3 separate regions of the Homo sapiens genome follow, and all the other regions are linked to region 3. The links come from fine-mapping of genetic effects on gene expression. A gene starts in region 3. Each other region holds a variant in brackets. All regions are shown on one strand. Distances are from middle to middle. Region 1 overlaps ZNF511-PRAP1 (ZNF511-PRAP1 readthrough). Region 2 overlaps INPP5A (inositol polyphosphate-5-phosphatase A). Region 3 holds the start of INPP5A (inositol polyphosphate-5-phosphatase A).

What was found. PIP is the estimated chance that this variant, and not a neighbour inherited with it, causes the effect.
Region 1: its variant is the best candidate, but not a certain one, in a credible set for the expression of INPP5A in spinal cord (GTEx, PIP 0.75).
Region 2: its variant is the best candidate, but not a certain one, in a credible set for the expression of INPP5A in whole blood (INTERVAL, PIP 0.75).

Annotation. Positions count from the first base shown.
Region 1 is chr10:133,310,468-133,320,166 of GRCh38, reverse strand. ZNF511-PRAP1 (ZNF511-PRAP1 readthrough) reads right to left here. Exons shown (of 9, transcript NM_001396060.1): 5 at 8,326-8,451. ZNF511 (zinc finger protein 511) reads right to left here. Exons shown (of 6, transcript NM_145806.4): 5 at 8,326-8,451; 6 at 7,006-7,379. The coding sequence ends at 7,301. It also overlaps a transcript of TUBGCP2 not described here. Among named protein-coding and RNA genes, the nearest start is that of ZNF511-PRAP1, 6.4 kb to the right of the region's middle. RefSeq lists enhancers at 1,396-1,625, 5,323-5,824, 5,831-6,100. The variant G/A (reference allele first, on the strand shown) is at 5,778.
Region 2 is chr10:132,671,591-132,681,289 of GRCh38, reverse strand. All of the region lies in intron 4 of INPP5A (inositol polyphosphate-5-phosphatase A), which reads right to left. Among named protein-coding and RNA genes, the nearest start is that of NKX6-2, 110 kb to the left of the region's middle. The variant C/T (reference allele first, on the strand shown) is at 4,670.
Region 3 is chr10:132,532,744-132,542,442 of GRCh38, reverse strand. It overlaps INPP5A (inositol polyphosphate-5-phosphatase A), which reads right to left and starts at 4,656. Exons shown (of 16, transcript NM_005539.5): 1 at 4,272-4,656. The coding sequence starts at 4,346. It overlaps LOC107984282 (a long non-coding RNA gene), which reads left to right and starts at 5,520. Exons shown (of 4, transcript NR_158224.1): 1 at 5,520-5,717. RefSeq lists enhancers at 570-699, 710-869, 630-1,164, 1,165-1,699, 3,706-3,755 and a silencer at 4,536-5,635.

The sequences.
Region 1 (9,699 bases), 780 kb before region 3:
TCATCTATCAATAATCTGTCGTCTCTTTAGCTGCTACCTACTACCTTTTTTTCTGAGCCAATGAGTGAATGGGGCATCTGAGTGGGGAGTGGGGGGTGGGGCCTGAGGAGGGGTGAGCTCTGCCCCAGGGACGGGCATCTCCCATTCCCCTGGAGCCAGATGGGAGATGAGAAGGGCCCAGGGGCTCCTGGAGCTGCCGTAAGTCCCACCCTCCCCACCCGGCCTGGCAACTCCTTGCATTCAGAGGAAGTGACCTCTTTATCCGTATATACTTGAGTGTGGATTCCCTGCAAACAAGGGCGTCTTCTTACGGAACCTTCATGCAATGATCAAAATCAGGAATTTAGGTTTCCAGATCCACACAGCCCACGTGAGAGCCAACAGGATGGGGGTGGAAGGGCCTCTGGCTTCCCTGTGTGCGAGCATGGACGCACGTACAGAGAGGAGGGGGCATGGATTGTGTGTGTGAGAGTGCGTGTGTTAGTGTGAGTGTGTGAGGGTATGAGCACAGACGTACTGAGAGGAGGGAGTGTGGATGACGTGTGTGAGCGTGTGAACACGGACACACAGACAGGAGGGGGTGTGCATTGTGTGTTAGCATGTGTTAGTGTGAGCATGTGAGTATGTGAGCACGGACGCACAGAGAGGAGGGGGTGTGGATTGTGTGTGTGTGAGCGTATGAGTGTGTGAGTGTGAGCACAGATGCATATACAAAGAGAAGGGGTGTGGATTGTGTGTGTGTTAGTGTGAGCGTATGGACGCACATAGAGGAGGTGCATGGATTGTGTGTGTGAGCGTGTGAGTGTGAGCACAGATGCACAGAGAGGAGGGGCGTGGATTGTGTGAGTGTGAGCGTGTGTGAGCAGGGACGCACATACAGAGAGGAGGGGGAGTGGATCATCTGAGTGTGCACGTGTATGAGCATGAGAGGCAGAGAGGGGCAAGGGGGACAGTAGGAGTCAAGGAATGTGTCCACCGTGTTCCCAGCACTGGGCTTCAAATCTGGCTAATTCTTGGAGCTCACCCGTCACCTGCTCATCTACAGATGGGTAAACTGAGGCCCGCGGCAGAGGCCTTACCTTCGCGCAGGGTGGCTGGAACCGGGAGGATCTCTGGGGACCCCTGCCCTGCTCCCACACCTCCTCCCACAGGCTCCCAGCCGCCTGCCCCTGGCAATGCGAGGCCTGGATGCTGGGCCAGGACCACCACAACCGCCGACTCTGCACCGCTCCGCGCGGGGCCGCCCACATCCTCCAAGCGCGTCCCTCCACAGTGTCCGAACTGACACCCAGCGGAGAAGGGTGCTGACGCCTCCAGGAGGTGGCGCTGCAGCCAGACACGCCGACCTGGGCCGCGGGGAAAGGGGAGGACGGCGGTCGGTCGCCTGAGGTCTTCATCTCCGCACGCCCGGGGGTATCGACCGGCTGCCAGTGGAGCAGACACAGGCACAGCCCGTCCGTGTGAGGAGCGGGCGAAGGGGCCAGAGGATGAAGGGACCGGGGTTGGCGGCCCCGGCCTCCGTGTTTCCTGTGAAGGAGGACGGAGACCGGCACTGGCACCCACGGCTGCACTTCAGCTCGGAGTCGTCCATGCACAGCTGGGCCCTGGCCTCTCCACCTGTGCGTGTTCCCGGGGATGCGGCCATCTTTCCATCTCTGCGTCCGGGGGGAGGGGGGTGGGGGGTGTGGTCTTTCCATCTCTGTGTCTGGGGGGCAGGTGTAGTCTTTCCATCTCTGTGTCCTCGGGGGGTGGGGTGTGGTCTTTCCATCTCTGTGTCTGGGGGGGGGTGTGGTCTTTCCATCTCTGTGTCTGGGGGGGGGGGTGTGGTCTTTCCATCTCTGTGTCTGGGGGGGAGGTGTGGTCTTTCCATCTCTGTGTCTGGGGGGGGGGTGTGGTCTTTCCATCTCTGTGTCTGGGGGTGTGTGGTCTTTCCATCTCTGTGTCTGGGGGGGGTGTGTGGTCTTTCCATCTCTGTGTCTGGGGGTGTGTGGTCTTTCCATCTCTGTGTCTGGGGGGGGTGTGGTCTTTCCATCTCTGTGTCTGGGCGGGGTGTGTGGTCTTTCCATCTCTGTGTCTGGGGGGGGGTGTGGTCTTTCCATCTCTGTGTCTGGGGGGGGGTGTGGTCTTTCCATCTCTGTGTCTGGGGGGGGGGGTGTGGTCTTTCCATCTCTGTGTCTGGGGGGGAGGTGTGGTCTTTCCATCTCTGTGTCTGGGGGGGGGTGTGGTCTTTCCATCTCTGTGTCTGGGGGGGGTGTGGTCTTTCCATCTCTGTGTCTGGGGGGGGGGTGTGGTCTTTCCATCTCTGTGTCTGGGGGGGAGGTGTGGTCTTTCCATCTCTGTGTCTGGGGGGGGGGGGGTGTGTGGTCTTTCCATCTCTGTGTCTGGGGGTGTGTGGTCTTTCCATCTCTGTGTCTGGGCGGGGTGTGTGGTCTTTCCATCTCTGTGTCTGGGGGGGGGGGTGTGGTCTTTCCATCTCTGTGTCTGGGGGGGGGGGTGTGGTCTTTCCATCTCTGTGTCTGGGGGGGGGGGGTGTGGTCTTTCCATCTCTGTGTCTGGGGGGGAGGTGTGGTCTTTCCATCTCTGTGTCTGGGGGGGGTGTGTGGTCTTTCCATCTCTGTGTCTGGGGGGGGTGTGGTCTTTCCATCTCTGTGTGTGTGGGGGGTGTGGTCTTTCCATCTCTGTGTCCTGGGGGATGGGGGTTGTGGTCTTTCCATCTCTGTGTCCTGGGGGAGGGGGTGTGTGGTCTTTCCATCTCTGTGTCCTGGGGGGGTGTGGTCTTTCCATCTCTGTGTCCTGGGGGAGGGGGGGTGTGGTCTTTCCATCTCTGTGTCCTGGGGGGGTGAGGCCTTTCCATCTGTGTGTCTGGGGGGGGGTGTGGTCTTCCCATCTCTGTGTCCTGGGGGCGGTGCGGCCTTTCCATCTCTGTGTCCTGGGGGAGGGAGGGTGTGGTCTTTCCATCTCTGTGTCCTGGGGGGGTGAGGCCTTTCCATCTGTGTGTCTGGGGTGGGGTGCGGTCTTTCCATCTCTGTGTCCTTGGGAAGGGGGGGTGCAGTCTTTCCATCTCTGTGTGTGGCGGGGTGCGGTTTTTCCATCTCTGCGTCTGGGGGGGGTGTGGTCTTTCCATCTCTGCGTCTGGAGGGGGTGTGGTCTTTCCATCTCTGTGTCCTGGGGGAGGGGGGGTGCGGTCTTTCCATCTCTGTGTTTGGGGATACAGTCTTTCCATCTCTGTGTTGGTGGGGGGTGCAGTCTTTCCATCTCTTTGTCTGGGGTGGGTGTGGTCTTTCCATCTCTGTGTCCTGTTGTGGGGGGTGTGGTCTTTCCATCTCTCTGTCTGGGGGGGTGCGGTCTTTCCATCTCTGTGTCTTGCGGGGGTGGTCTTTCCATCTCTGTGTCTGGGGGGTGGGTGTGGTCTTTCCATCTCTGTGTCCTGTGGCAGGGTGCAGTCTTTCCATCTGTTTGTGTGTGTGTGTGTGTGTGGGGGGGGGGGGGGGGGGGGTGGTCTTTCCATCGCTGTGTCCTGGGGGGGTATGGTCTTTCCATCTCTGTGTCTTGGGGAGTGTGGTCTTTCCATCTCTGTGTCCAGGTCGGGGGGAGGGGTGGTGCGGCCTTCCTATCTCTGTGTCCTAAGCGGGGGTGTGGCTGTTCCATTCTGTGTTTGGTAGGGGGGTGCGACCTTTCCATCTCTGTGTCCAGGGAGGGGGGTGTGGCCTTTCCATCTCTATGTCTTCGGGGTGTGTGGCCTTTCCATCTCTATGTCTTGGGGGTGTGTGGCCTTTCCGTCTCTGTGTCTGGGGAGTGCAGTTGTTCCATCCTGTGCCTTGTCTGAGTCCTCTTGACAGCTGCAACCTGGAAGCCACTTCCAGGTGTGTCGGGAGTTGGTTCCTTCCAGTGGGTTCGTGGTCTTGCTGACTTCAAGAATGGAACTGCGGATCTTCGTGGTGAGTGTTACAGCTCTTAAAGATGGCATGGACCCAAAGAGTGAGCAGCAGCAAAAGTTATTGTGAACAGCAGAGGGTCACCACTGCTGGCTGGGTGGCGGAGGGGGTTGTGTGTGTGTGTTGGAAGGGGCAGCTTTTATTCCCTTATTTGTCCCTGCCCATGTCCCGCTGACTGGTCCATTTTACAGGGTGTTGATTGGTCCATTTTACAGTGTGCTGATTGGCCCATTTTAAACACTTCTAGCTAGCTACAGAGCATTGATTGGTGCATTTTTACAGAGCCCTGATTGGTGCATTTTACAAACCTCTAGCTAGCTACACAAAAGTTCTCCAAGTCCCCACTCGACCCAGGAAGTCCAGCTGGCTTCAGCTCTCACAGGTCTTGCAGCTGAAACACGAGCATCTCTGCCGGGCGTGGTGGCTCATGACTGTAATCCCAGCACTTTGGGAGGCTGAGGCAGGCAGATCACCTGAGGTCAGGAGTTCGAGACCAGCCTGGCCAACATAGTGAAACCCTGTATCTACTAAAAATACAAAAAGTAGCTGGGTACGATGTTGTGTGTCTGTAATTCCAGCTACTCAGGAGGCTGAGGCAGGAGAATCGCTTGAACTCAGGGGGCAGAGGTTGCAGTGAGCCAGGATGATGCCACTGCACTCCAGCCTGGGCAAGAAGAGCGAGCCTGCCTCAAAAAAAAAAAAAAAAAAAAAAAAAAAAAAAAAGAAGAAAGAAAGAAAAGAAACATGAGTATCTTCTTAGAAACGGATGCAGCCCACGTACAGTTATGATGCTGGCTTTGAAACAAAACAGTAACATTCTTCATACCGAAGTTTTACACTCCCCACTTGTCAGAAGAAAAACTGAGACAGAATAAACAAATCGCTTCCAGGCAGAGATGAAGCTAGGATTGGAAGCCAGGACCAACAGTCCCCGAAGGGTATAGAACAGTCCTGCTGTGAACAAAAGAGTTTTAGCAGAATCTGCTGTTGTGGAAAGGGCTAATACATCCTCGTGGAGCGCTGCCGCCAGGGCTGTGCTGCTGGCCTTGTGCAGGGAGCTCACGCAAGAGCCAGAGGATTCAACGGGCTGGGGCAGGATCTTCTCAGGGAGATGGAGAACCAGCAGTAAATCTGCGTGTTTGCATTTTTCTTGTGTTGTGCTTTCTCAAGCAGCCGACAGGCCCCGGGCGGCCCCACCACAGCCACCCTCGGCCAGTGCTCATCTCCCACCCCACACATGTGCGTGTGAAACCTCTCTTCACTGATGCACCCAGGCCTGGGCTTCAGGCTTTAGTGTCTTCCCTTGAGTGCTTGGGAACCTGCCTTCAGTTTTCAGAGCACGAAGCACTGTGCCATGTCAGCTCTGAACCTGAGGCCCTTGAGATTCCTTGACTCCAGGTTGCTGGAGAGCTCTCAGCATCATCCTGTGGAGCTGGGCAGCAGCTGCAGATGACCACCCACTGCCTCCAGCCAGACCCAGAGCCCCAAAAGGAGTGGGCTGTGAGGCAATGCCAGGGGCAGGGGGCCAGGAGCACACCAGTCACATGAAGGGACCAGCCCCACAGGGTCTGTGTGTTTTTCTCCCCGTGTGCAGAGACAAGAGATCGTAGAAATAAAGACGCAAGACAAAGAGATAAAAGACAGCTGGGCCCGGGGGACCACTACCACCAAGACGCGGAGACCGGTAGCGGCCCAGAATGCCAGGCTGCACTTTTATTGGATAGAAGACAAGGGGGCAGGGTAAAGAGTGTGAGTCATCTCCAATGATAGGTAAGGTCACGTGTGTCACGTGTCCACTGGACAGGGGGCCCTTCGTCATTTGGCAGCCAAGGCAGAGAGGCA[G/A]AGAGAGAGAGGCAGCTTACGCCATTACTTCTGCATATCAGAGACTTTTAGTACTTTCACTAATTTTGCTACTGCTATCTAAAGTGCAGAGCCAGGTGTACAGAATGGAACATGAAAGCGGACTAGGAGTGTGACCACTGAAGCACAGCATCACAGGGAGACGGTTAGGCCTCCAGATGGCTGCGGGCGGGCCTGACTGATATCAGGCCTTCCACAAGAGGTGGAGGAGTAGAGTCTTCTCTAAACTCCCCCAGGGAAAGGGAGACTCCCTCTCCCAGTCTGCTAAGTAGCAGGTGCTTTTCCTTTGCACTGACGTTACCACTAGACTACGGTCCGCTTGGCGACGGGCATCTTCCCAGACGCTGGCGTCACCGCTAGACCAAGGAGCCCTCTGGTGGCCCTGTCCGGGCATGACAGAAGGCTCACACTCTTGTCTTCTGGTCACTTCTCACTATGTCCCCTCAGCTCCTATTTCCGTATGGCCTGGTTTTTCCTAGGTTATGATTGTAGAGTGAGGATTATTATAATATTGGAATAAAGAATAATTACTACAAACTAATGATTAGTGATACATATATAATCATATCTATGACATATATCTAGTATAACTCCTGTTATTTTATATATTTGTTATACTGGAACAGCTCGTGCCCTCGTTCTCTTGCCTTGGCACCTGGGTGGCTTGCCGCCTATATCACATGCTGTGGGAACAGGGCCGCTGGAGGAAGACGTGGTCGGGAGTCTCTGAGCGCCCTAATTTTATCAAAACAGAGTGATTTCTCCAGGACACACTGCCCCCAGTGTATCTCTGCAATCCAATGCCAGCCCCAATCTCCTGGCCTGCATTTCCTGATGCAGGCTCTGTGGTCCCCGCTGGCACTAGTGATGGATCCTGCACCCTCTGGGGCAGCACCCCCCACTCCCCCAGCATCCCACACACCCCCAAGCACCCCATGCCCCCAGAGCCAGTGCCCCTCCCTGTGGGCATCAGATCCTACCCCCACCAGGTCTACTCCCTAAGTGGTGTGGCAAGGACAACTGGGTGTGGCTCCCAAAGCCAGGAGGTCCGGGACGAGGTGGAGTGCTGTATCCTACCCCATCACCCACCTCTGAGGGGTGCCAGGACTTTATAAATCTTCCTGAAAACTGAGGGTGGAAAACAGAATACCCATGGGTAACAATAACCACTCCGCACCTGACTCAACACAGAAATGAAGACTCAAGACCATCAGTGAAAAATACTTATTTCATGTGTTTAAAAATACATTCTTAGGGTGGGCCCTGCAGGAGGAGACAGGCCGTCCACATCTCCTTCCCAATAGTGTGTCCAGGTCGTTTCCAAAATCTGTGGGTCCCTCACAGCTTCTGATGACAGCTGCTAATGCCATTTGCTGAGGAACAAGGATGGGGAGGATGGCGAGGGCCTGGCCCCCAGGGCGGCCACACCAGAAGGTCGGAGAAAGGCCCAAGGCGGATGCCACGCCCAGCAGTGGTGACTGCCCCCCACTCCTTTTCTGAGTCTATCAGCATTGTTTGGTTTTCTTCTTGTTGCTTTTAAATCCTCGAGCGGCACCCTGACCAAAGCAGATGGTAGAGGGTATTCTGGGATGGAAGAAAGTTTCTATTAGATGCTGTATTTGCCAACCAACAACCCAGGTCATAACAGCACTTGTGTGTCTCCTTCTCATTCTCTTTCACTCTGGGAACATGCGGAATGCAGAGCCGGCCCTCCTGGGCCCTGGGGCAGCTCCCTTTCCACAGCCTGAGACCTAGTTCCTGTGGGGGGTCCCCGCCAGCCACCAACGCACACCCGCTGGGAAGAACTCCGCAGAGAGGGCGGCTCCTGCCAAGCCCTCTGGGGCTGAGACTTCCTGCTACCCCATGTCCATTCCATGAAAACCCCTACTGTCCCAGCCCCCCGGGGCTCATTCACAGGCCAAAGTCCAGGCATCTGTAAGGAGGGTGCAGGGAACATTAAGTTCATCGTTCCACCTGTTTGGAGTCTTTGGTGATGTTTTTCCCCACTTGTTCACCGTTTTTCCCAAATTAATTTAAAATCAACTTTAACTAGAAAGGCAGACGGCACAGGTGACGCTAGAAAGGCAGACAGTACAGGTCATGCTAGAAAGGCAGACGGCACAGGTCATGCTAGGAAGGCAGACGGCACAGGTGACGCTAGAAACGCAGACGGCACAGGTGACGCTAGAAACGCAGACGGCACAGGTGATGCTATTAAGGCAGACGCCTGGGTTGTGACTGAAGCAACTGCAAGTGAGACTCTTTCCATCCCACTCAGACAATGAGGAAAAGTGAGTGGTGCTTGGCATTCCTGCGCTTCAATGGCTCAAAAACAGAGTATGCGAGAGAAACTAAGTTATTCACAGGACCTGAGATATCTGGACTTTCTTCTCTGGCGGAAGCCGATTTTCTTACCCAGCGTTACCTTTCTGAATTCAGTATGAGAAGAGCTGCGGCCCAGGTGCAGCCCAGAATCCTCAGCACCGAACACATGTTGAGAACGGGTTTCAGAAAGAGCTCAGACACTGACCTATGTCTGTAGATCCGCCTCTCACCTGCCGGTGCAGGGGAGGCTGCCACAGGCTCAGAGCAGATTTCCATGGCCTCCCCTTCTGACCGCTCTCCACTGTCCCCTGGGGCTTCTGCTGAGGCTGGGCTGCGGGGAGAGAGCAGTGAGTAACTGCCCTGCACGGCTCCCACAGCCCCTGTGTTCCCCAGAAATGAACATGCAAGAAAGAAACTGGATTTCCCTGTAAGTAGCATATTTTCTTACTATTTTGGCATAGTCTGATTTTATAGTGTGGTTTAAGATACTGGGAAAAGGAGAATGATTACAGCAAGGCCATTGTTTATATAATAGAGTCTGCATCTTATAAACTTAACTGTAACAATCATACTTTTTTTTGAAAATAGTATTTTTATGGTGCCAACGGTGCCACGGGTCTTTTTATGAGTGTGAGAAATTTGCTAAAGTTAACCAGAGACTATAAACTAGTCTCTTCCATAATACGAATGTCTTAATCCAGCATTGCACGGTTTTTCTCCTTAAAATGATCCCTCGGAAAGGAGACAATTACTTTACACGTAAGTCTTTGTAAAGCCTCCCACATTGCAGTGGGTTCTCCCAGTTCTTTTATTTTAAAGAGCAAATTACTACTTGAGAAAATGTAGAGTCTGAAAAACTCTGATCAATAAAATTGTAGATGATTATGAAAGTTCACCTCATCAGTTAAAAAAAGAAGAAATATAACACAATTTAAAAATTGTTCCGGCTGGACATGGTAGCTCATACCTACAATCTCAGCACTTTGGGAGGCTGAGGCAGATGGACGGCTTGAGCCCAGGAGTTCACGACCAGACTGGGCAACATAGCAAGACCCTGTCTCTACAAAAAATAGAAAATTTTGCCGAGTGCGGCGATGCGTGTTGGTAGTCCTAGCACTTTAGGAGGCTGAAGTGGGAGAATCGCTTGAGCCTGAGAAGTGGAGGTTGCAGTGAACCTACATCACACCACTACACTCCAGCCTGGGTGTCAGAGCAAGACCCTGTCTCAAAAAAAAAAAAAGATTGTTCCTGGAAGTATTTCCCAGAGTGCACTCTAGGCAGGAACATGTTAATCAACAGCTTTGTCATCAAGTTCATATGCGCACAACCAACCAGGACAAAAGGAAAGCCAGGGCTGCATGATGTGTGAGCACGGCCGACGGCTGCAGGAGGTACAGACACGGCCCCGAGGGGTGTGAGTGCGGATGACCACGGCCGACTGCTGCAGGAGGTACAGGCATGGCCCAGAGGGGTGTGAGTGCGGAGGCGCTGCGCCCGCTCATTCCCACACCCCCTCTGCTGCCTCCACCGGCACAGAGCTGGGCAGCCAGGGGCTCCCCTCCAGCCTCCCTTCGGCAGG
Region 2 (9,699 bases), 140 kb before region 3:
CCCGAGTGGGTTGCCACTGCTGGCTCGGGCAGCTTGCTTTTAGTCTCTTATCTGGCCCCACCCACGTCCTGCTGATTGGTAGAGCCGAGTGGTCTGTTTTGACAGGGCGCTGATTGGTGCGTTTACAATCCCTGAGCTAGATACAAAGGTTCTGCACGTCCCCACCAGACTCAGGAGCCCAGCTGGCTTCACACGGTGGATCCCGCACTGGGGCTGCAGGTGGAGCTGCCTGCCAGTCCCGCGCTGTGCGCCCGCACTCCTCAAGCCCTTGGGTGGTCGATGGGACTGGGCGCCCTGGAGCAGGGGGCGGAGCTCGTCGGGGAGGCTCCGGCCGCACAGGAGCCCACGGAGCGGGTGGGAGGCTCAGGCATGGCGGGCTGCAGGTCCCGAGCCCTGCCCCTCGGGAAGGCAGCTAAGGCCCAGCGAGAAATTGAGTGCAGCGCCGGTGGGTGGGCACTGCTGGGGGACCCAGTACACCCTCCGCAGCTGCTGGCCCGGGTGCTAAGCCCCTCATTGCACAGGGCCGGCCGGCTGCTCGGAGTGCGGGGCCCGCCAAGCCCACGCCCACCCGGAAATCCAGCTGGCCCGCAAGCGCCACGCGCAGCCCCGGTTCCCGCTAGCGCCTCTCCCTCCACACCTCCCTACAAACTGAGGGAGTCGGCTCTGGCCTTGGCCAGCCCAGAAAGGGGCTCCCACAGTGCAGCGGTGGGCTGAAGGGCTCCTCCAGTGCCGCCAAAGTGGGAGCCCAGGCAGAGCAGGCGCCGAGAGCGAGCGAGGGCTGTGAGGACTGCCAGCACGCTGTCACCTCTCACTATCTTCTGCGCTTTTTGACAACAGCCATCCTAATGGGTATAAGGTATTTTGCAAGTCCTTTTAAACTGACAAATGAAAATGGCAGTTTGGATCTGCATCTCCCTAAAGGTTCGTGGAGCTGGGCGCTTTTTCGTGTACTTATCGGCCGTCTCCACGCCGTCCTTGGAGGGAAGACGCCTATTCAAACCCCTTTCTGACTCAGGTTGGTTTTTGTTGTTGCTGTTGTTGAGTTTTCGGAGTTCTCTATATATTCTGGATAGTAATTCCTTATCAGATTTTTGATTTGCAAATATTTTCTCCCATTCCACGGTTGCCTTTTTACTCTGTTGATGTTGTCTTTGGCTGTACAAAGTGGTTGTGTTTTAATGCAGTCCAATTTGTCTCTTTTTTCTTTTGCTGCCTGTGCCTTTGGTGCTGCGTCTGAGAAATCATCGCCAAATCCAATGTTGTGAAGGTTCTGGCCCATGTTTTCTTCTAAAAGTTTTATAGTTTTAGGTCTTTGACTCATTTTGGGTTAACTTTGTACACAATGTAATGTGAGGGGCCAACTTCATTCTTCTGCGTGTGGGTATCAGCGTCCCAGCACCACTGGCTGGAGGCTGTCCTCTCCCATGGAATGCTCTTGCACCCTTGTCAGAGACCACCTGGCTGCCCAGGCAGGGTGCCTCCTGGCTGTCCCCTCTGCTCCATGGTCTGTGTGTCTGGCGCATCTCTTTTTAAGATTATTGGCAATTTAAGTTTCTTCTGTGAACTCTTTGTATCCTTTGCCCATTTTCCTGTCTCATTTTGTAGATTTTTAATTTTTAAATATAATCCAGAATTATTTATTTGTCTCATCACCTTCTCACGCCCTCCACCCTCCTCCAAACTCTGTTACTTCTAGGCTACGGGACTCCACATTCTCCTTCCCTGGATCTCCTCCTCCTACTTGGGAATAACAGCACTCTGGATCTGCTCAGGGTACCCTACGAGCCCTTCTCCTCCACCTCCTCCTCCCGCTGGGGTGGCCCGTCTGTCCCATCTTCCAGCGGGCAGCTCTTGTGTGTACAGCATGGAGCCTCCTAAAGGCCAGCCTCCTGGCCCGGCGGCTGCACAGTCTCCACTTGGGTCTCCCGTGACAAGTCCGACCTTTCAGGACTGGAGACCTACTCCACCCTCACCCTCCTCCAGCTCCCACTGGAAACCACGGATCTCTCCAGATTCCTCCAGCATCTTGTCCATATGCCTCACCCAAACATCCCTTCCTTCCACAGGTTCTACGGATTACAGAACCCTGTCCATCTCTAGCCTTCCACGTCTCTGCACTGCTGCACACCCACCTCCCTCATCTCCCTGTGGGGCCCCCGCCTCCTCCACAGCTGTAGCCCCCTTGGTCTCTTCTCCACCGGGCACCAAGGTGGCCTTTTCCACATGCACCTCTGGGCCTGCCACTGCACTTCCTCCCAGCCACGTCCTGCACAGTGGCCACCCCAGCTGTCCTCTGGCCCTCACACACCCAGCTGACAGAGCTCCAGCCCCATTGGCCATCTGGGCCTGAGGAGGCTGCGCCCTTCTGTCAGGAGGGTACCTCTGCTGCCTCCCCTTTTCCAGCTTCTCACATGGACCCCCTGCTGCTTCAGGTCTCTGTGGAAATGCAGCCTCCTCCAAGCAGCCCTCTTGATTGGCTACTCTGGGCAGAGGCTTGGCAGTCCCAGTCCCCAGCCTTTCCTTCAAGGTGCTGCATATTCCAGCACTCACTGGTTTCCTCATCTAAATTCTTTCAGGGAAGGGAAGCCCCCTGAGGGCAGGCATGTGGCCTGGGCGCCTCTGAGTCCTCCACCACAATGCCCAGGTCACGGCAGGCAGGAATTCCACGGCTCCTGGGCAATGAGAGAGGCACCACACCCTCTGGGCGCCCGGCTGAGCAGCAGCAGCTCAGGACCGCTGGACAGAACCCTCAGCTCAGGTCTCAAAGCACAACCCAAGGCACAGGTTCACGGTGCTCCCGAGAAGCTGAACACACTTGCAAAAGTCACACATTTAACCCTATCACAAAGGCAAGTCCCAAGACACCTTGTTTTGAAACAATTTAACAGATTGAGTAATAAATCAAAGCAAAGTTATAATAACAGTCATTAGATTATAAACAATAATAAATGAAACAAAGCTTTTGTTTAAATCAATGTAGCGCTTCATTGATCTTTTCCTGTATAATGAACTCATGGGCGGCTGACCCAACTGGACAAGGCGGCGTCCTCACTACTGCCCACTTCCCCCAGTGCCACCCCCAGGCAGCATACGGGGGGCTGTGACCGTCCGCTCTCAGAGGAGCTCCGTGACCACCACAAAATGACAGCTGACTTATTTACAAAGCACTGACTTTCCAATTTCAGCTCCTGGGGCCAAACGGGATGACGGCACCAAGGTGTCCCCCTGTCTGGCCTCCTGCCGAGCCCCTCTCCCGGCTGGCTGCTGGCGGGAGAGATGCACACGTAATCTCATTCTGCCTCCTGTTCGACAGCTGACGCTAGAGGTTAATTAAATTGGTTGTCCATTGTATTCATCCACTTTACAAAGCTAATGATATTCTGTTCCTGAATTAAAGAGCATTTTATAAAGCGTGCCCCGTGGAAGCCGGCATTCTGCACGCGGGTTGCTGAACCCTGTCACGGCTCTTGGATGTAGTGTCCCCAATTAGGAGCCCAGGAAGGACCGGGCCTTCATCTGCCAGGGTGGAACACCAGTCATGCTGACACGAGGGTAAACACGCCACATACCAGCCGCTTAATCGCCCTCGCTGGCCACGATAAATTCCACCAGACGAGTGCGCCCGTTAACATTTCCGATTACCACGGTGAGGAGCAACTGAAATGGAACGAGATGGCCTGTAAAACAGCCTGCGGCAGGCTTCTCCAAAGGGGGTACATCTGAGGGCGGCAAGGTGACCAGCAGTCCTGGCTTCTCGCCTGCTACCAGCACTGGGCTCTCTGTCACACTGCGGGGGCAAAGTCATTGGCCGGTCTAAGGACACCCACCCTTGCTGAGAGAATTCAGTCACCACTCACATTCCACAAATATGCACCCGGCACTTTCTCCTTCCTCTGTGCCACATATGTTCTCAGACATGTGAGATACATGAGTGACCAGATGGCCAGAGCCCAAGACGGCAGCGTGGTGAGGGGGGCCATGACAGAGGAGCCCCAGTGGGGAGGTTCAGCTCTGCACCCAGGCAGCATCCACAGGACCTCCAAGACCAATGTGAGCTGGGATGGGCTCTGGAGAGACAGCGTCCAGCCATGGACCTGCAGAGGCTGAAACAGCTTCAGACACCTCAGGGAGGCATCAAAGGTGACTGAACCTAGGTCTACAGTTCAGGACAGGTGCCTGGGTGATGGTGGGGGTCACCATGTGAATACCTGTGGGTCTACAGTTCAGGACAGGTGCCTGGGTGATGGTGGGGGTCACCATGTGAATACCTGTGGGTCTACAGTTCAGGACAGGTGCCTGGGTGACGGTGGGGGTCACCATGTGAATACCTGTGGGTCTGCAGTTGAGGACAGATGCCTGGGTGACGGTGGGGGTCACCATGTGGATGGGCCTCAAAGCTGGGGAAGACTCAGCTTGCCAAGGAGGAGCTGGAGCCAGAGAAAAGGGCAGGGTCAAGCACTGGACTGAGGCTACTACTGTGGAGAGACAGGAGCAGGTGAGAGCCAGCAGTCAGTGGGGCAAGGAGCCACGGGGGAAACAGGAGGGGCCGGTCAGGGACTAGGACGGAACCTTGGGCAGGTGGCACCTTGGAGCAGAGTCAGGAGGAGGGAGCAGCCACAGGTGCCCAGGGCTGCCATCTCATCAGGGGCGCAGGGAGCGGAGCACTGGC[C/T]GGGACAGCAGTCTGTAGGCCAGCGGCGGTTTGGGCAGCCCTGTCCCACACAGTCACCTGCTTGTGTTCAGCCCATTATCATGGACCTTGCTTTTCAAAAGGGAAATCTCTATTGACTTTTGTCTGATGTAATATATTTCACGAGCTGATGCCAGACAAAAAGGAAAAGCAAGTAAATTCCCCATGCCTCTTTCACCCGGAGTGGAGGGAGACAGGTGGAAAGGTCCTGGCCCAGAACTCACGGTGTGCCAGACAACAGCAGCCTCGGCCACAGGGAGACGTGACGCCCCAGAGCCTTTCCGCAGGTCTCATGAAAAACGAGGCTGTGTGAGGAACCTAGTTTCCCTGTGGGTGCCTACCAGTCATTTTAAACCTGTATCACCTAGAGCTCTTCCTCTCAAAATGAGATTCATTTGCAACGCAGATGCTATTTTTTGAATAATAAATATTTCACAAATTGAAAATTTCAATAATGAACAAAGAAAAATATCAGTCTTAAAATAACTAGTTTTAATTATGAAATTTGTTATATTTTTCTACGTATAAATGATTATACAAGTAAATCAATAAACTTTTATGCCAATTAAATTATGTAAGGAGTTTGCATCCTAATTAAAATGGTTCTGACTCTTATCTTTTGTCTTCTAAAAATCATTAGCTTTTCAATTACATTTCATGTATACATGTTCTGGAGAAACTGGTTATGTGCATTATGGATATAGAATAATTAAAGTAAAATGCACTTTAAGAGATGGCCAACACTGAACACAAGCTGTTTACAAAATACCTTCTGCCAGTACAAAAGCTCAGGGCATATAAAACTCTACTCAAAAGCCTTAATTGAGTTTTAAATGTCCATTATATTAGGAAATTGCCATCTACTTCTGTTTCAAATAATTTACCTTAGTTCCCGGTCCCCAGAAATGCTAAAACAGCAGTATTCCAAGGGCACACGCTCCCTCCAGACCCTGATCGGGGTCCCAGTTCTCCGCGTGGGAATATCCCCGTGGGAATGTCCGTTACCCTCACTCTCCCGGGCACGGCAAGGCCCCTGGAACGCTCACTCCACACGCACCCACCCCCATGCTCAACCGCACTTCTCTCCGTGTTTTACACTGCAGGAGGTGCCTCGGTTTACACAACCAATGCCCATGGCCATTTGCCCGCTTCCCCCAACTGCCTTGAGTCTCATTCCTTTCTCCTCTCTGACTTCATATGAGATCATTTTCTCTCCGCTTGAAGAACATCCGTTAGTACTTACTGTTTTTCATTTGAGTTAAAATGTCTATTTCACCTTCAATCTTAGGAGATGTTTTGCCGGGTAAGACCCTATGCTGACATTTCCTCCAAGGACACGGAAGATGCGGCTGCACCGTCCCCTGCGGTTACCATTTCTGCAGGAACAGGAAGGTGGCCTGTCAGTGTGACTGCGGCACACCCCTATGCTCTCTATGGTTTTCTTGATTTGTTATAATCTGACTGGGTATGAGTTTTTATTTTTTTGATGCTGCTAGGGATTCACTGGGATTCCCAACTTTCTGGACTTTGGGTATGGAGGACTGAGGGGGTCCAGAAGAGGAGTAGGCTCTGCAACAGGTCCAGGCTGCTGTGCCAGCTGCTCTGACACTTGGGCCATATGACCCAGCAGATCCAATGGTGCTTGAGGTGTCAGTGGCAGATAAGGATGCTGTTTGGAGCCTTTGGCAGGTCCCCATAGGTGAATCACAGCGGAGGCCTCTAGGATTTTGGAGTGAGGCCCTGCCATCTTCTGCAGGTAACTACTCTCCTTTTGAGAGACAGCTCTTGGCCTGTTACTGGGCTTTGGTGGAAACTGAACGTTTGTCTATGGGTCATCAAGTCACCGTGTGACCTGAACTGCATGTCATGAACTGGGTGCTTTCTGACCCATCTAGCCATGAAGTGGGTCATGCACAGCAGCATTCCATCATCAAATGGAAGTGGCATGTATGTGATTGGGCTTGATTAAGTCCTGAAGGCACAAGTAAGTTACATGACGACGTGGCTCAAATGCCCATGGTCTCCACTCCCGCCACCCTCCCTTCTCTCCCCCAGCCTGCACCGATGGCCTCATGGGAAGTTCCCTATGATCAGCTGACAGAGGAAGAGAAGACCGGGGCCTGGTTCACAGATGGTTCTGCACGGTATGCAGGCACCACCCGAAAGTGGACAGCTGTAGCATGACAGCCCCTTTCTAGGACATTCCTGAAGGACAGCGGTGAAGGGAAATCTTCCCAGTGGGCAGAACTTCAAGCAGTGCACCCGCTTGTGCACTCTGCTTGGAAGGAGAAATGGCCAGATGTGTGATTATATACTGATTCATGGGCCGTAGCCAATGGTTTGGCTGGATGGTCAGGGACTTGGAAGAAGCATGATTGGAAAATTGTGACAAAGAAATCTGGGGAAGAGGTATGTGGACAGACCTCTCTGAGTGGTCAAAATTTGTGAAGATATTTGTATCGCATGTGAGTGCTCACCAATGGGTGACCTCAGCAGAGGAGCATTTAAATAATCAAGTGGACAGGATGACCCCTTCTGTGGATACCATTCAGCCTCTTTCCCAAGCCACCCCTGTCATTGTCCAATAGGCCCATGAACAAAGTGGCCATGATGGCAGGAATGGAGGGTACCCATGGGCTCGGCAACATGAGCTTCCGCTCACCAAGGCTGATCTGGCTACGGCCACTGCTGAGTGCCCAATTTGCCAGCAGCAGAGACCAACACTGAGTCCTTGATATGGCACCATTCCTTGGAGTGGTCAGCCAGCTACCTGGTGGCAGGTTGATTATATTGGACCTCTTCCATCATGGGAAGGGCAGAGGTTTGTCCTCACTGGAATAGACACTTACTTTAGATATGGGTTTGCCTATCCTGCATGCAATGCTTCTGTGAAGACTACCATCCATGGACTCACAGAATGCCTTGTCCACCATCATGGTGTTCCACACAGCATTGCCTCTGACCAAGGCACTCACTTTATGGCTAAAGAAGTGTGGCAGGGGGCTCATGCTCATGGAATTCACTGGTCTTACCATGTTCCCCATCATCCTGAAGCAGCTGGGTTGACAGAATGGTGGAATGGCCTTTTGAAGTCACAATTACAACACCAACTAGGTGGCAATACTTTGCAGGGCTGGGACAAAGTTCTCCAGAGGGCCATGGATGCTCTGAATCAGCGTCCAATATATGATACTGTTTCTCCCATAGCCAGGATTCACGGGTCCGGGAATCAAGGGTGGAAGTGGAAGTGGCACCACTCACCATCACCCCTAATGATCCACTAGCAAAAGTTTTGCTTCCTGTTCCTGCAACATTACGTTCTGCTGGCCTAGCGTTATTAGTTCCAGAGGGAAGAATGCTGCCACCGCGAGACCAAACAGCAATCCCACTGAACTGGAAGTTAAGATTGTCACCTGGATACTCTGGGCTCCTCCTACCTTTATGTCAATAGGCTAAGAAAGGAGTTACACTGTTGGGGTGATTGATCTGGTCTATCAAGGTGAAATCAGTCTACTACTCTGCAACGAAGCTAAGGAAGAGTATACATGGAATACAGGAGATCCATTAGGGCGTCCCATAGTATTACCATGCCTTGTGATTAAGGTCAACGGGAAACTACAACAGCCCAATCCAGGCAAGACTACAAGTGACCCAGACCCCTCAGGAATGAAGGTTTGGGACATTCCACCAGGAAAAAAACCACGACCCGCTGAGGTGATGCTGAAGGCAAAGGGAATACAGAATGGACAGTAGAAGAAGGCAGTCATCAATACCAGGGGAGTGGGGTGGGGCGTGGAAGGCGTGGGGTCCAACGCACATGTAACTGGAACCTAGAGGGAATGCAGAGGGGGAGTGGAAGTCGTTTTTGAAGAGATGAGAAATCACGTTTTTCCAAACTTAGGAAAGACCTTGTATTAGTTTGTTTTCACACTGCTGATAAATACATACCCGAGACTGAGGAATTTACAAAAGAAAGAGGTTTAATATGGACTTACAGTTCCACATGGCTGGTAAGGCCTCACAATCATGGCAGAAGGCAAGGAGGAGCAAGTCACATCTTATATGGATGGAAGCAGGCAAAGAAAGAGCTTGTGCAGGGAAACTCCTCTTTGTAAAACCATCAGATCTCATGAGACCCACCCACCACCATGAGAACACCATGGGAAAGACCTGCCCCCATGATCCCCTTGCCTCCCGCAGGGTCCCTCCCATAACATGTGGGAATTCAAGATGAGATTTGGGTGGGGACGCAGCCAAACCATATTATTCCATCCCGACCCCTCCCAGATCTCCTGTCCTCACATTTCAAAACCAATCGCCAACCCAAATATTATTTCATAAAGTTGACAATACTTAAATGCTGATATGAAGTGAATAAATCTTATGTCACATGATAAAGGAAAAGGAAATAAAATGAAGATATTTTCTTAGTACAAGTGTATACATGCACAAACATGTTTTTAGCAAAAGAATGTCACAATGCTCAATAAGAGCCACTTAACAAAACGTAGTTCTCTCCCTACATCCTTGGGAAAGGAACTACTGAATTTTGACCTCTAACGAAACCTGTCCTCAAGCTTTAAAACCTACAGTTTAGCTGAATATTGGACAACAGTCACCTCTAATCAATGCTGTCCACCCTGAGCACCACCCCCACCGTCACCCTGGCTGAAGCTGGCCTTTCCTGCGCTGTCCCCTTCTGAGAGCAGAGCAGGCTGGTTGAGAGTACAGGCTCTGAGGCCAGAACCAAGTTCAAATCCCACATTGGCCTCTTCTGGTTGGTCCCTGAACCTCTCTGTGCCTCAACATCTCTATCTGTGACACGGGGAAGACAAATAACAGTACCCACTTCATAGGGCTGCTCTGATCCCTGCATGGGTGGCACATGTAAGGCACATGAAACAGTATCAGGAAGCTCATGTGCCAACGGCTATTCCAGGAGGTGTTGGTGCTGCTTCCTGTCAGCACCTTCCCATGCTGGAGGAGCCGCAGAATACGGCCCCAACACATCC
Region 3 (9,699 bases):
GCTACCAGAGAGAGACGCCAGCCTGCACCACTGACCATCACCGACTCCATACCCACAGCAGCTCCGCCACCTCCACGCTCTTCCAGGGCTCTTCAACACCTGCTGACTGCAAGGTGCTCAGGTCCCTGCCAGCGAGCACTTGCCGAGCCCACTCTCACAGCCGTTCTGCAAACCCGGGTCTGGGCAGAGGGACAGGGCTGCCCGGGAGCTGACTAAGCAAAAAGGCAAACTGGCTCAGAACTGACTTAGCTGCGAACAAGCAGCAGGAAGGGCCACCAGGCAGATACCCGCCAGCGGGCTGTGTTCTCAGGACCAAACAGCAGCCTGACCATGCAAGGGTGGGACGCCACAGCTGGCAAGAATTCACCTCCTCAATTCCCTTCTCATAAAAATGGAAGGAACCAAAAGCCAGAAACCTCACTTGTCAAAAAACCAGCCACATCAAAGCAAAACAATTAAATATGGACCCCTGGTCACCTCTTTCCAAGCAAACCAGTAGTGACAGCAGGAGTCCAATCCAGGAATTAAAGACCAGCTGCAGGGCTCACCGAGGGTGATCTGGCAGTCTGCATAAGCCTGGGAAAGTCCCAGGCACCCCAGCCACCTGGCCAGAGACAGGGGTGCCCATGACAGTATGGGGAGGGAGGACTGGGCTGAGGAGGCCTTTTCACAGGTTGACTAGGTCAACACTATTTCCATAATACTACAAAATGACTCCTCTTTCCATTCTCACTGTCTCCTAGGGAAGAACGGCCAACACCTGAGGGGGTGCCTGTGATGTGGGATGATGTAATCGCTCTGCCAGCTAGTGCAGTGAGCTATGTATTCTCATGCAGTCTCAGCTCCCAATATGAGAAATATTGGTAGTTATAACCAACATAAACAAGAACTCTTTCGGGTCCTCCATAATTTCTAGGAAAGTGAGGGATAAGGGCTTGGGGACCGGTACACTGTAAGGCATTTACCGCAACACTGTCTGCACAGGGTCAGACACAACCCCAGTGGGGACAGCCCCGCAGCCCGCAGCATGGCCAATCTGGGGTCACAAAGATGGAGTAGTGATGAGCAAACAGGGGCTGCTGAGTGAGATTCCGTGTGGATCCCAGGATGCTACAAACCACAGCTGAAGTGGATGCACGCAGCGTTTTGAGAGGGGTGACCTCTGGACCAGGGACAGTGGCTCACACCTGTAATCCCAGCACTTTGGGAAGCCGAGGCAGGTGGATTGCTTGGGCCCAGGAGTTCCAGACCAGCCCGGACAACACGGCGAAACCTGGTCTCTACAAAAATTAGCTAGGCATGGTGGCATGTGCCTGTGGTCCCAGCTACTTAGGATGCTGAGGTTCACCTGAGTCAGGGCGGTCGAGGCTGCAGTGAGTTGTGACCGCACCACTACAGCACTCTAGCCTGGGCGACAGAATGAGACCCTGTCTAAAACAAAAACAAGAGGGGGAGGAGGAGGGGCCTTAAGAGGGGAGACTTTCAAAACTGCAAAAGCAAAAGCAAACCACCTATCACTTGTGCACAAAAGGAAAACAGAGTCCGCCACAGTCCGGGATATCTGCTTCAGATTCAAACACCTTCCTCCTCGGAACTGTGACCGGCTCCAGCACTGGTCACAGACGAGCTTGGCTTCCAACACGGTGAGACTGGGCGAGAAAGATTCCTTCACAGCCTGAGCACTGCCTGCAGGGTGCGTTCGTCAGCACGGGACGGGCTGCACAAAGGCAAACAGAATCTCAAAGCAGGTCCCCTGAAATCCAGGACAAACCAAGAAACCAAAACTTCCTTCACTCATGAATTTCCTTCCACCGGCCAGGCTTCTGGCCCACAAGTACCACACCCCAAACCTCAACCAAGGAAGGGGGCCTGGGAATGTGAGTGCCTGGCTGGTTTCCACTGAAGGAGACTGGGTCTGGCCCCCGGGGACTGAGCTGCACACATTAAGAAATCTTCAGACACGGACAGATAAGTTTCCACTCAGCCCTGAAATCACAATGCACCTTTCAGAATTAACCTATGTACTGTTGACCTAAACAAATGTTCCTTCTAAACATAAACATAATGCAAAATTCCACATAGCCTTTAAGAAAAATGAAAATTCAGAGAGAATAGGTTGCTAAACAAAAGTGAATTAAGTTACCCAATTTAATATCAACAGAGATAAATACGTGTATACAATTGAAACACAACAAAAATGCTAGAACTCAGAATCAAAGATTACTGGAAAGAATGTCTGCACAGTAAAACTCGTTTCCCTTTGAGACTAAAATGCCCCAGCAAGCTTAATGCTCCTGACATTTCTGAGGCTTTGAAGCCGCAGCTAACGGATCTGAATCATCTGAACAAAACCATGCTATAGTGACATGTTACTGGAAAGCCTAGAATAGAACGCCAAATATACAGACACACACCCATGCCAGGCACTTTTGTAGAAAATGATCAAACATAAACCTAGATGAAGTTGTTAATAATAAAGTGTGAGGAAAACCAGTTCCTCCCCAGCAGGTCAGTATAATACATGGGCACCTGGAAGTTAAAATAAGAAAAACAGAAAAACAGCGCCTTTTGTTAATAAAAACCAAACCTAGCCTGTGCATGAACTGAGCTTCATCAAACACTTCACCCATGCTTGCTGCCAGCAAAGACACAAGACCTCCTCCTGAAATGGAAACCACGCGTGCATCAGTGGCACACATCCGTCATAAAGCTGGTGCGGTGCCCCACTGTTCACCTAGGGAGGGAGGGAGGGAGGGAGGGAGCGTCCGTGGCTCCACGGCCTCCATCTGGGCCACTTGGAGCCTCACTCTGCTTTATTTGGGTTGGCAGCAGGAGTACCAACAGCAGGGTGGCACCGTGGCTGAAACGCCAAACTAGGTCAGACCGGCCTGCCTCTGGGGAGCTCCCAGTGCGCCCTGGGCCTCAGCTCCCTGGTCTCTCCAGAGATGGGGGCACCCTGGGATCCTGGGTGGGAATGAGGCTTGGGTGGGAGGGGCCCTAGAAGGTAAAGGCCATAGGCAGTCAGCATCCCCTTTCTGGCCCTGAAGAGCTTCTCAGCATCTTTTTCTTCAATAAACAAGAAATATAAAGTCCTACAGTGCTTTACAGACTTCCCTTATTTACGAACTAAAGAGATACTAAGTGGCAGGGTTAAATGGGGGCACCCTACCCTCTGGCCCTGCAGGGACAGACAGACAGTGAGGCCGGCACCCAGGCATCCAGGAGCTGGGGCTGACAGCCAGAGTGGAGGGCCTAGGCTCAGAGGACAGGGGCCAGGGGTGGGAGTCAAGGGTTAGGGTTTGGGAATTCTGCAGGCTCAAGGCCCAGGCTTTAAGACCAGGATTCAGGATTCAGGATTCAGGGGCAGGAGCTTGTTGGAGGAAGGGGCCAAGGATGGGATCTAGGAACCAGAGTTAGGGGCAGGGTCCAGAATTGGGTTTGGGGCCTGATTCTGGAACCAGGGTTCCAGGTTCAGGGGTCAAGGACAAGTGTTCAGGGCCATAAGCTGGGGCCTGAGGTTGAAATTCAGGGTTCAGAGTCAGGCTAGATTGGCTTTAGAGGCAAAGGGCCACAGTATGAAGGCTGGGATTCTAGGGCTAGAATTCAGTGATTGGGGAACAGGGACAGGAGGTTGGGGCCACAGCCCTGTGTCAGAAGTTCCTGGGTTAGGGTTTGTGGTTATGTTTCAGGGTTTGGGGTCCAGGGCTCAGGGACCAGAGACAGACGTTTGAGAGCAGGTTCTGTAACCAGAGTTCTGCAGTCAGGATTTGTGGTTCCAGTGACCATGGACCTGGGGTTCAGGGCCAGGGTTGGGGATGGGCATTCCAGGGCCAGGGTTCTGAGGATTCGGAAATCAGGGCTGGGGCTGGGTTTGGTGCGCACAGACCCGGTTTCTGGGGTTTGGGTTCCAGGAACTGTTAACAGGGGTTCTGACAGGGTTTTAATATTGGAGTTTCGAGGTCAGGATTTGCAGACAGGAGTTCAGAGGCAGGGTCCCAGGGTCAACGGTCAGCTGCTGGAGTCTGGAGGATGGGGTTCGGGGATTCAGGGCCCAGGTCTTCAGGTCTCGGGCTTGGGGATCAAGACAGGGGTCTGGGCTCCCAGACTTGGGAATCAGGACAGGAGTCTGGGGTCCCGGGTACAGGGATCAGAGTCTGGGGCCTCTGGGTCTGGAGGTTCACGGTCCAGGGTCCAAGGCTTGCAGTTCGGGACCCCGGGGTCAGGGTCGGGGGTTCCGGGCTTGGGGCCTGCCGCCGGCACGGGGGACTTACGTCGTCGAAGAGCGAGCCCACGTTGGCCGTGACCAGCAGCACCGCGGTGCCCGGGGCGGCCGCCTTCCCCGCCATGGTGCCCGGGCGGCGCGGGCGCTGGGCTGGGCGGCGGCGGCGGCGGCCGCTTCCTCCGGGACCGGCCGGCCGGGGTCTTCGCGGGGCCGCGGGGCGTCAGCTGCGCCGGGGGGCGGCCCCGGGGCGCATCGCGGGCTCGGCGGGTCGGCCGGGCCTGGCCGGGGCTCCGGCCTCGCGCTCGCTCGCTCGCTCGCTGCTCCGCGGCCCCGCGCCCGTCGCTCGCCGCCGCGCCTCACAGCGGCCCGCGCGCAGCCATTAGATCCGCTGGGAAAGTTCCCGCAGCCGCCGCCGACTCAGGCTGAGGGCAAGTCCCGCCCCGCGGAGCCGAGCCCGGGGCGGGGCCTGGGCGGGGCGGAGCCTGACTCGGGGTGGGGCCTGTGCGGGGTGGAGCCGGGCCTGGGGCGGAGCCTTGCTGGGGGCGGAGCCTTGAGGTGCGGAGCCTGAGTTGGGCCTAGATCTGAACAGAGTGGGGCGGGGCCTGCGGGGGGCGTGGCTTGTGCGGGACTTGGTGTCCTTGTGGAGGCGGGGCCTGCCCCGGGGCGGGGCCTCCTTTCGGGGCGGGGCCTACGCGGGGCGCTCTTGCGACCGGCGGCCTAGTACTGGTCGCTCCCGGAGGGCGCTCCTGTCAGTCAGGCCCGCAAGAACGCCGCGCCCCCGCCCCGCCCCCCGCGCCGCGGCTGCGCACAGACTCCGCCCTTCGCACTTCTATGACGTCACGGCCCTGCTCCGGCGGCGCCTCTTAAAGGGGCCCTGGGTTCCGGGCGCCGGCGGCGGGTGCGCTCTCTTGCGGCTCTGAGGGGATGTTCCAGCCCCCGCGCGGCCGCAGTCGTCCAGCCGCGTGCCGGGCGTGCGGGGGAGGGGAGCCCACCGGGGCGGCGGCAGTCGCGCCTGCAGGGGCCGGGCCACGCGCGCCCGGCTCTCCGCGCAGACGGAGCGTGGACCGTGCAGCTTCCCGGCGCGTCCACCCGGCTCCCTGGCCGCGACCTCACTCACGAGGAGCGGCTGCGGCCCAGAGAAGACGGAGGGGAGGCGGCGTGAGGCCAGGCGCATCCTGACGTCGCGGAGGGCTCCGGCCCGGGCCAGGCTGGGTCTCAGCGCGGGGCGTGCAGGGAACCCTCGCAGGGACGAAGGGGGCTCCAGGGGAGGGGGCTGGTGCGGGCCCAGGAGCGCAGAGCACGGAGGAGCAGCCGGCTCGGCGCGGGCCCCGGGGCAGCGATGCTGATCCTGGCCGCCGGAGGGGCCAGAGCATGGGCTGGACCCTGGGTCTGAGGCCGCGGGGACACAGCCGCCGTGAACCGGGACATGCCTGTAGATGGAGGAGGAGAACCACATTTGTCATCTTAAAGCTTCCAGTAGCTACATTTTTTAAAGGTAACAAGTAATAGCCAAAGTTAACAATACGTTTTACTTAACCCAATAGATAGATACATCATTCAACATGTAACCAGAATTTAACAACCTCAGTGAGATTCCTTCACAGGAAGGCTTTGCACGGGCACCTGCCTCTTGGCAGCAGCTCACAAGGCCGCTTCCAGTGCTCAGCAGCCCTGTGTGGCCAGTGGCCACCATGCGGAGCAGGCACTCCGGAGGATTTTGTGGACACAGATTTAGGGGCGGTCAGGGCCTGGCAATGGGCTCTAGCGAGGCTAGCCTCCAGCTTCTGAGTAAACCGCCAAGGCAATGCCCAATGACATCAAAAGGGGCTTGTTCTGTTCTAGGAAGACACCTGCTGCCAGGGCGGGGCGGCAGGAATGGTGCTGCAGGCTCGGGCCCCAGGCCTGTGCTGAGGCCGCATCACTGGCTTGTGTTAACACCCCCAGGGTTCCTCCTTACGGCCACCGCTGAGCAGGACTCCAGCAAAATCCATTTGATGTATAAACCAATGTCTACTTTAGTCAGTAGGTGCCTGCTACAGACTGAATTCCGCCCGCCCCACCCCACCCCACCCCGCAAATTCATGGGTTGAAGCCCTAACCTCCAATGTGACTGTATTCGGAGGTGGGCTAGCGGGGGTAATTAATGTTAAGTCGTGCAGTAGGGCTGGTGTTTAATGTTAAGTCGTGCAATAGGGCTAGTGTTTAATAGAAAGGGCTCAGTGCTGTCCCCACCCTTACATGTGCAAAAGAAGTGGCAGTGTGAGTGCACAGTGGGAAGCTTCACCCCAGCCAGCCACAAACCCTGCACCAGAAATCCAACGCTGCTGGAACTTGATCTTGGATTTCCAGCCCCCAGAACTGTGAGAAGTAAAAGTCTTGTTTCAGCCTCCCAGCCTGTGATATTTCGCTACAGCAGCTGAAGCTGACTGATGTAGTCGCTTATTTTTCTTTTTAACAAAATCAGCACATGCTAAGGGTACCCTTAGTAGAAACCAAATGTGGGGGTGTCACTGATCCCTGGAACGTGCTTTCTGAGAAGGGACATTGCCTCCTCACTTCTCCCCGCAGGCTGTGCCCTCACACCCGGCTGAGGCAGCGTCCCCCACCCCTTGTGCCCTCCCTGCTCCCCCCTCCTCCTCTCCTCGCCAGCCAGCTCCTGCCATGCCTGGACGTTGGCCTCTGCCCTTCCTCCAGGCAGCCACCTCCTCTTTCCCATGCACCCCTCACCCACCACAGGTTCAGCCCCTCACAGTTCTCCTGCCTCCTATATTCCGTGCTCATTACCAGAACCTCCAGAACCCAAGGGGGTGCGGCCTGGACCTCCCACTTCTGCATCCACGGCCCTGGGCATAGCCTGGATGTTCTCATCACCAATGACCACACCAAGGCCGAATCCAGGCACCTTGCCCTCCCCACCACCTCCTCTCCTTTGGTTTCACTTCCGTGGGACCTCATGGAAACCTACAGCCCATGCTGCTCCCATGCCTTCGTTAGCCACCGCCACACGTGCACACCCACACAGAAACACATGCACACGCATGCACTTGCACGCACACACATCTGCACATGCGCATGCACGAACATGCACACGTGCACACATGACCACGCATGTGCACACCTCTTCTTCCTGCCTTACTCTGCTTCTCTCTGAGGGTAGAATCACTTTGTGTACCCACTCCCTCCCCTCTCCCTGCCCCCCAGCACTCACCCAGCTGGCCCCCAGGACTGATTTACTTGCTTACAGTGAACCTGCGCCCAAATTAGAGAAAACTAAATTGGGGGAAAAACTAGACAACACCTTATTTCCATGCCCCTGGCATCTCCCAGGTCTCAGGCACACCCACGTTGAGCACTAGGCCTCCTGGCTCTGCGCATGTGCACTCCACCACTCCAAGAGGCCACTGCAGCCTTCCCCTTCTCTAACCACCAACTACGCTCCCTGGAGGAAACGTTTGCCCTTTGTTGAGGAAGGATTTGCAGTCTGGGATTTTCCCACTGTCACCCTAAATAACAGAGAGAGGCTCTCTAAAAGAAAATGAGATTTACTCGGGAACATTCATTGCAATAGAATATGTGTGCCATCGTAAATTGGGTGTGGGTCAAGGAAGGTAAAGGAAGACAAAGATTTTCAAAGGAAACAGGAGGATTACATCATTGTTTTGAATCAATGATCCTTGGCTACAAGGATCTCCAGGAAGGATGGTGCCAGTCTGAGGCTGGACAGGCAGCTACTGGGCAGATGTCTTCCCAGAAGTGTTTGTGTGTGTAAGTTGTGATGGTCTTTGTGCACGGCTGTGATTTTTGCAGTCTTTTGTGATTGTTCTTGCTATCAAGCATGTCTGCATAAGAACCCTCCCTTCATGCCCTTCCACAGTCTATATGTCAGGGTTTTTAATACCAGTGACTCCATTTGGATTCTGACTGTGATCACGCCACTAAGTCAACACATCCAGCATCTGGTGTCTGTCCTGCACATCCTCCATGCTGCTACATGGAATGAGGTGCCTGTCCCCGCCCAAGGCCACCCCCTCCTGGGTCACGTCGGCAGTTCACAAGCATGCTGCGGTCTCTCAGATCTCTGGAAGCCTCCAGCCTGTGCCCCTCCATTTTCCTCCCCCCTCTCTGCTCTCCTTGCTGCAAACCTTGTCCTAAAAGTCTGCCCATCTCTGCCCCGCATGCCAATGGACCACTCTTGTCCAGGCCCTCGAATTGTGCTTCTCATGCCCACACCCCATGGGGCATCCTAATTCAAGGGCCAGCCCCCCAGGCCTGATTGCAGCTGACCTTCCAATACGGTTGACCACTGGCTGCCTCTTGGAAGTGAGCCTTGCCCTGGCATCTGTGGCATTCCTGCTCTTCCCTCCCAACTGCGCTGACCACCCCCAGTCTCCTCTGCTGGCTCCCTTCATGCTCACCTGAGTTCTGGGGCCCTGGGGTCCTGGGTGTGCCCTTCCTGTGTTCACTTTCTCCCGGCTGACCTGGCTGGGCCCTCACCTTAGATCATATCAGCATGCCGACCGCTGCATGGGCATGGCAGACCTGTCACTGTGCCCGGGGCCTGGCTCTCCTATGTTCAGAAAGACATTGGCCACTTGTGTCACCTGTGTTAAAAGCCACACTCATGAAACCAGGTGAGAGGGAGGATGCCTCTCCCTTGTGTGCCCTTCTTCACCCTTGAAATATTGCCCCGTGTATTTGCTCCTTTGCCAAAATAATAATAATAACGAGTTTCCTAAAGACCTACTTACCTGGCTTAAGGAGATCCTGGGCCCACCTAGTCTGCAAGGAGCAGAGAGGGAGATGGGGAGCAGAGCCTGCCCGATTTTCCTCCTCCTACCATGGATGAATTCCTCAGCAGCTGCCAACCCTCTTCAACCTGGTCAGCCACTTGGCCCAAAGCTCTTGTTCTCCCAGGAGGGAAATTCGGCCCAAGACTTTTATTAGACAACAATATATTGCGAGCTTTTTAAAAAGGACAGCACTAAATATCACATTGTTACTTCGTTTAAGACAGTAACCAATTTGCTTATGGATTCATAGTTATCAGAGGCTTCCAGCCAGCATCCCTCATGCATGTCCACAGCAGATTCAGAAGGTGCCCTGCGGCATGTCTGCGTCTAGCACTGCGCAGCCGTAAAGTGCATTTCTAGCGTCTAATAATCATCGCTCTTCAGTACTCCTGCCGGGTGGGTCAGACTTACTCCATTGCATATAAAAACACTGAGGTTAAGTGACTCACTCAAGATAATTGTCTGCAGACAGAGCCTGGCTAGGTGCACAGTGAAAGGAATCCAGGGTCCTGTCCTCTTTGGGAGTGGCTAGACCTGGTCACTTTAGGCAGAGGTATTTTGCCATTAGTAAGCTCTGACGTCACCCAGAATTCATCTAGAAAGGGAGCTGTTGAATTATGGGGATACTTTCCTCATTAATCAGCTTAGTAACAGTTATCATTTTTCAGGAACCAATTGTGTGTGAGG